Linked DNA regions of Homo sapiens. The protein of the gene in region 1 purifies or fractionates together with the protein of each later gene. This does not show direct contact. Each region holds a gene or a part of one and is shown on either strand. Other genes may lie near its edges.

What was found.
Region 2: the proteins of LPA (region 1) and CANX purify together in Homo sapiens (affinity purification with western blotting; 3 studies listed by BioGRID). This does not show direct contact.

What each region holds. Positions count from the first base shown.
Region 1 is NC_000006.12:160,542,037-160,545,856, reverse strand, and holds part of LPA (apolipoprotein(a) precursor), read left to right. Parts: intron 1-323; coding exon 324-417; intron 418-3,048; coding exon 3,049-3,169; intron 3,170-3,820. UniProt on the Homo sapiens protein: Apo(a) is the main constituent of lipoprotein(a) (Lp(a)). It has serine proteinase activity and is able of autoproteolysis. Inhibits tissue-type plasminogen activator 1. Lp(a) may be a ligand for megalin/Gp 330.
Region 2 is NC_000005.10:179,715,881-179,719,700, forward strand, and holds part of CANX (calnexin isoform d precursor), read left to right. Parts: intron 1-18; coding exon of another isoform or gene 19-120; intron 121-224; coding exon 225-414; intron 415-3,787; coding exon 3,788-3,820. UniProt on the Homo sapiens protein: Calcium-binding protein that interacts with newly synthesized monoglucosylated glycoproteins in the endoplasmic reticulum. It may act in assisting protein assembly and/or in the retention within the ER of unassembled protein subunits.

The DNA.
Region 1 (3,820 bases):
AATGATGTCCCACTGTCCTCTGAGGCTCTAGCTCTAAGACCTCCAGTGGGTCAAGCTCCTGGAGAAGTGGCACATTCTCCAAAGACCCTTCAGGGTCACCACACCCTGGTTAAGGGTGTGGCCTCATAACTCCTTTTGACTATGACTGATGGCTTACAGCATAGAAAGAAATAACTTTGTCAAAAAATATAATAATGATAGAAAGGAAGAAGGAACGCTCCCTTTTGTCTTCTAAGAATAGATGTGAAATGTGTGTGCCTTAGAATATCTTCTCCCTCTCCTGCTCCACGTGAGCTGGAGCTTACATGCCTGCTTGTTTTCAGTACTGCCGTAACCCTGATGGTGACATCAATGGTCCCTGGTGCTACACAATGAATCCAAGAAAACTTTTTGACTACTGTGATATCCCTCTCTGTGGTAAGTTGCCTTCTGTTTTGGTAAGGAAACTGCTTCCTTAATATGGATTTGGAAAAAAAAAAGCAAAAAAAACAGAAAATGGCTTTTGAGCTGAGTGCTTCTGGGGAGGAGATGGCTGCCCTCTCCACCAGAGCCTGCTTTTCATCATGGCCACCTTGAACCTGCCCTACTATTGGCCCCATTTGTTAGGAAAACACCCGCCCCTCCCACCACACACACATAAATAAAATAAATGTCAAATTCCCAAAGGGCAAACTTAGAGGTGATCTAATCAGCCCGGGATAGTCCCACCGAACCCTTCTTTGTCTAGCGTGGGATGCATGAAAAACAAATTTAGAGTCATTATGATGAAAAACTGTCCTCTTCTGCAGCTGAGAAGAAAAAAAAAATACGAGCAGCAGGAAACAGCTAAGCATGTAATGCACATTGTAAACCTCAGATGGCCATCCTAGGAAATCAATGAAGGGTAGTGCAGCTCTTTAGCCCCAGATGGCCTTTCTCGTAAGATTACTACTCATGAGTCCCATTAGCGACATTGCTTAGAGACTGCTTGTTAGGTTCCTTCCTCATTGCTCTGAGACTCTTATTGGGAGTATGAGGCTTGGATCAGGGGAAGGGGAATTGACATTAGATCTTAAATGATTGGGGTAACAAATCCATGGGGGAAAAAAAGCCACTTGTACTTGTTCCCTATTTTCTTCCTGCTGACCAATCAACTTGTCTGTCCGAGTTACAGAACACCACCCTGGACTTTTCTTTTGTGTAATTTGGTTGCTTGTGGTTGGGTCTGCCATGTGAAGGGACCTTGAGCTGGGGGAAGAAGGTTGGCCTCCAAGTCCACTGAAGACCAGCATCCTGAGATTGCCTGGGGAGGTGGTACAGGGCAGTGATGAAGATCATGGGAGCCACACTGCCCATCGTCACATTTGGGCCACTCCTGGGGAGAGCAAGAGGGAAGAAGGAGAGGTTAGGGTGATAGGAAAGATTCTACTTGGCCAATATTATTATAATGTGGCATTGTGGTCTCTGGATTTAGTGTGAGTTGATAGCTGACTTTTTTCTCGAGTGGGTGCTTTTGTTCTATTTTGTCGGTGCTATTGCAGAAGCATCTTGGTGGTTCCTCTACCTCAAAGTCTCTTGATGGGGTCAGTTCCAGTTCTCCGCTTCTGGCCCCATCTAGTACACGCCACTGCCTCTCACTGCCTGGGCTCTCTATCCTTGACAGGCTGCCTTGAATTTAAGCCCAGTCTGACTTACCTGCCTCAAACACCCACAGTAGTGCCTGGGACTCATGCACCTTTGACTCCCATGGAAGGGAAGTGCAGTAGCTTCCCAGGTGCAATTCTGCTGTCCTCACCCACATTGAGGATGTATGAGAATCAGGTTCTTAGAGATTGGAGAAAGAAGGAAGAATGGGAACAAGATTTCTTCCAATGGACTGTGAGGTTCCCCACCTTACTTTGATGTAAGACAAGTGAGGTTAACCCCAAGCCTGGTGAGGAGGGTTCCCATCAGACACTTGGAAATCCTGAGGACTGTTTCCTGCAGAAGGATGTGGTTGGTGGGATATTCAGGTTTGACTCATGATTGAGAAAGTTAGAGCCTCTGGTTGGAGAAAGAGTTTAATAACTATTTCATTTCCACCAACACATTCAGTACGAATAATAAATAAGTAAAAATAAATAGAAACATTCAGTTTTATTTTGAATAGTAGGAGTAGGGTATAATTTCTGTAGTTACTCTTTTAGTACAATGATGCATGTTTACTGTATGTAAGGCATACTAGCAGAAATTGAGCTCAGCACTAGAAAAGATGATTGCATTCCATGCCATGCTTCTTTTTTACAAAAGACTTCTATAGATAGATTCTCAAAACAACCCACAGCAAATGAAAAGTTATTTGGAAAACTCAGGTTCCAGATTCACTGGAGTGTAGAATCTCTGGTTGGTTGGGGAGGAATTTCCTCTTGCAGTTGTTATTAATAATTATATGAATAATTATTAACTATATTAATATTTATAGTTTTGAAGACCTTGAAGGGCTGGAGACAACAGAGAAGCATTTTTGAACACCCTCTGTAGCCCCTGCACTGTTGTAGGCATTGATGGGTGGTACCAAAGATGGGACACTTTCCCTACCTCCAGAGACCTTGTGGGCTTGCTGCAGAGAGAAGGCAGGGAGGAGGAAAAGAAGAATAGAGGCACATGTGTGTAAATTACCCCCACAGCAGTCAGTTAGTCATGGGAGGCTCCCCAGAAGAACTGTCCTGAAGCTGGCTGAGAGAAGGCAACATTTCAACATAGGACAGTTATCCTTGCTACATAAAATCACATACACACATGCACATATGTCCACACACAGAGACTCACATGCAAAAGAATCCTTTGTGCCTTTCAGTAAACTTTACATGGTTTAGAAAGAACTTATATTTCCTTGAAAGGAGAGTGTCCTTTGTTGTTTACTACCACTTTTTAAACTTAGAAAGAAAAATCTAAAGAGTGTTTATGATTTTACCATTTAATTTCACCTTTGAGATGTGAAAAACTAGTGCTTGGAATTCGTCCTGAATTAAACGACACAATTGCTAACTTGGACTCAAATGCGACTTCTTTTCCCACCTTGTGCCACAGCATCCTCTTCATTTGATTGTGGGAAGCCTCAAGTGGAGCCGAAGAAATGTCCTGGAAGCATTGTAGGGGGGTGTGTGGCCCACCCACATTCCTGGCCCTGGCAAGTCAGTCTCAGAACAAGGTAAGAACAGGCCCAGAAACCATCTATACTGTCCTTCCATGTAAGCCCCACAAAACCCTTCTACATTTACACAGAACCCACACAGCTGATGCATCAATACCTGCCTCTCTGTTTTCTGAAGGAGGAAAAAATATAGAAAAATTAAAAAAAGTTATATTATTATAGGTTCTCTACTTGGAAAATAGCCAAAATACAAATCTTTTTCTTGATCTGGGCAGTTCCATCAAAATCTGTAGGCACAGTGATTTGCACCAAGTTCCAATACTTTTGGAAAATATTGAAGATGCTCTGAGGGTTTCTATGGATATCCATTGTCTCACTGTCAGATGAAAAGAAAGGGAAGTTTTTAGAAATGTGACACTTTGCAGTGAGGGAGGACAAGAGCAAACTTACCTACAGTCTATCACAGGCACAGATTTTTTTTTACACTTTTGTGAATCATTGAATTCAATGCCGAGGCTATTCATCTATTCACAAACACATGAACAAATTATGGGTTGTGATCCCCATAAATGAAGAGTAATCAGTCCGAACCCACAGAACCTGGACATTTTGGGTATCGTTTCAGTGGAACATGCAATTCGTAAGTTCAGTTTGCTTGGGTGTCTCTTAGGAAGAACACATAGGACACAGACCCATCTGCCTGCATGT
Region 2 (3,820 bases), on another chromosome or scaffold:
ATTTGCTGTAATTCTTAGAAAGCCGAGGGACTAATCATTTATGTTTCGTGCATAAGGAAATGGGCGTTAGCTTCCCCAAGACCCCAGGAGCCAGGCATTGTTCTTACCCCAAAGCCTCAGGTCAGACTTCTGCTGCTTCACGTTAGAAGTCATGATCTTTTGTATTATGGTAAAGGGAGCTTGGAAAATTAAGTACTTTTAATTCCATTTAATGTTTCTTTCAGTCTTGAATCCAGATAATAGTTTTGAAATACTGGTTGACCAATCTGTGGTGAATAGTGGAAATCTGCTCAATGACATGACTCCTCCTGTAAATCCTTCACGTGAAATTGAGGACCCAGAAGACCGGAAGCCCGAGGATTGGGATGAAAGACCAAAAATCCCAGATCCAGAAGCTGTCAAGCCAGATGACTGGTGAGTCTTGGGGAACTGTCTTCAAGTGTAAGGGAGCATTTCATATATTCCATGTGGCTTGAACAACGAAATGTTGGTTGAGTAAGCTCTGATAATTTCAGTAATCCATGATGCAGTCTAATCTGTAGGGAAAATATAGAGTACTATAGCTGGAAAGGGGCCATAGTGTAATCATCTGGATTGACTCACCATTTTACAAGCCACAGAATGCCACACTTGATAAGAGTTTGTCTGTGGTGACACTGTTGGTTTGTGGCAGAATCTCAGGTCCTTTAACCTGGCTACTCCAGGGCTTCTGTGAACTCACATTTAAAGCCAAAGTTCTGAAATGCTAAATTTTAATTTGAAAAATAACCTTTTTCCTATTTAAACAACAGTCAATTCTCTGCTGTGGGTTGGGTGGTAGAATACAAAGCCACAAGGACACCACCATCTGCCTACACAGAGCTTGAAGTCCAGTTGTGAGGCATGATGTTGGCATGTGGTATCGTAAGGGTTCATGAGAAGGTGCCACAGGAGACCAGAGCACCAGGTGTACCTAAACTAGGCATGGTTTCTTGGAGCAAGGCAAATCAGATTGAGACTTGGCAGTGAGGTGAGAATTAAGGAGTTGGTGAATATGGGAAGGGGTGTTTCTGATTGAAGAATGTCGTATGCAGAAGTAGAGGAGCAGCAATGAGCTTGACATGCGAGGGAGAAATTACATGGCCTTTTATGTAGGGTGCACATTGAAGAGTGAGGAGAAATGAAGATAGCTGGGGCTGTATTCTTGTATATGGCTGTCTTTGAACTTGCAACTTCACACAGTGACTCCAGAAATGTCAGAAAGTGAACAAAGAAATTCTTACCCTTTGTAAAATATCCTCCTATGCTTAGCAATTACATTCTAGATTATCTTTTTCCTCCTTGAAAGGTAAGATACATATAACTGAACTTTTGTACTGCACTAGTATAAATGCCAAGTTTACTTGTATATTTGGTGTATATTAGATTTGGACTTAGCCTTGTTCAGTATTATATTCCTTAACTAGCTTTATCACCTAAGAAGGCCCCTGTACCCATTAAGCGGCCACTCCCTGTTTCCTCCCCCAACTCCCAGCAACCACTAACCTGCTTTCTGCCTCTCTACATTTGTCCACTTTGTATATTTCATATAAAATGGAATCATACAGTATGTGGCTTTCTCTGTCCAGTTTCTTTCATTTAGCACAGTGTTTTCCAGGTTTATCTGTGTTGAAGCATGTATCAGTACTGCATTCCTTTTTATGATTGAATAAATTCTACTGTTTTGATAATGCCACATTTTATTTATCCATCCTTTGGTGGACATTTAGGTTGTTTGCTCCTTTTTGTCTGTGATTATGAATAATGCTGCTATGAATGTTCATGTACTGGTTTTTACATAAATATGTTTTTTCTTTTCTTGCTTTTTTTTTTTTGAGATGGAGTGTAGCTCTGTCGCCCAGGCTGGAGTGCAGTGGCGCCATCACGGCTCACTGCAACCTCTGTCTCCCGAGTTCAAGTGATTCTCCCGCCCTAGCCTCCCAAGTAGCTGGGATCACAAGCGCATGCCACCACACCCAGCTAATTTTTGTATTTTTAGTAGACACGGGGTTTTACCATGTTGGTCAGGCTGATCTCGATCTCCTGACCTCAGGTGATCTACCCGCCTCAGCCTCCCAAAGTGCTGGGATTGCAGGCGTGAGCCACCACACCTGGCCTCTTTTCTTTAGACATGATCTCTGTGTTGCCCAGGTGGGAGTACAGTGGTACGGTCACGGCTCACTGCAGCTTCCACTTTCTGGGGTCAAGCGATCCTCTCCCGCCTTAGCTTCTCAAGTAGCTGGGACTGCAGGTATGCACGCCTGGCTAATTTTTATGGGTTTTTTGTTTGTTTGTTGAGACAGAGTCTCGTTTTGTCACCCAGGCTGGAGTGCAGTGGCACGATCTCGTCTCATTGCAACCTCTGCCTCCCGGGTTCAAACGATTCTCGTGCCTCAGCATCCCAAGTAGCTGGGACTACAAGCGTGCACCACTGCACTCGTGCCTCACCCTCCAAGTAGCTGGGACTACAAGCGCGCACTACTACAAAAAATTCTTGTATTTTTAGTAGAGATGGGATTTCACCATGTTGGCCAGGATGGTCTCAAAATTCTGATGTCAAGTGATCTACCAGCCTCAGCCTCCCAAAGTGCTGGGATTACAGGCGTGTGCCACCGTGCCTGGCTGTGCATGTTTTTTCTTTTTTTTTGAGACGGAGCTTCGCTCTTGTCGCCCAGGCTGGAGTGTAGTGGCGTGATCTTGGCTCACCACAACCTCTGCCTCCCGGTTTCAAGTGATTCTCCTGCCTCAGCCTCCTGAGTAGCTGGGATTACAGGCATGTGCCACCACGCCCAGCTAATTTTGTATTTTTAGTAGAGATGGGGTTTCTCCATGTTGGTCAGGCTGGTCTCAAACTCCCGACCTCAGGTGATCTGCCCACCTTGGCCTCCCAAAGTGCTAGGATTACAGGCATGAGCCACTACACCTGGCTTAATTTTTGTATTTTTTGGTAGAGACAGGGTGTCGTCATATTGGTCAGGCCGGTCTTGAACTCCTGTCCTCAGGTGATCCACCCGCCTTGGCCTCCCAAAGTGCTGGGATTACAGGTGTGAGCCACCGCACCTGGCCTTGTGTATTTTTTTTTTTTTACTAGAGACTGGGTTTCACCTTGTTGCCCAGGCTGGTGTGGCCTCAAGTGATCCTCCTGCCTTGGCCTCCCAAAGTGCTGAGATTACAGGCATGAGCCACTCTGTCTAGCTATAGATATATATTTTCATTTCTCTTGGGTATATATACCTAAAAGTGGAATTGCTGGGTCATGTGGTAACTAACTTTTTGAGAAACTGCCAAACTGTTTTCCAAATGAGCAGTACCATTTTACTTTCCCACCAGCAGTGTATGAGGGTTTCAGTTTCTCTGCGTTCTTTCCAGCATTTGTTTTTATGAGTCTTTTTTATTAGAGCCAACTTGGTACTAAGTGGTATCGTTTTGATTTGCCATTTCCCTGATGGCTAATGATGTTAAGCATCTTTTCGTGTGCTTATTGTATGTTCATATTGTATATTTTTACATTCGTATGTCTTCTTTGGAGAAATGTCTATTAAAATCATTTGCCCATTTTTAAATTGGGTTGTCTTTATATTATTGAGTTGTAAAGAGTTATTTTACTAGGCCCTTAGCAGATATATGATTTACAAGTATTTTCTAAGAGGAATTATTTTAAATTTTGAGATTAAAAACAAATTTTTTTAGAATACTCTGTTCTGATCCACAAAGTGGTACTATACTGTGACCAGTGTTGTCATAACTGGCTTTTTCTTTTGTATTTAAGGGATGAAGATGCCCCTGCTAAGATTCCAGATGA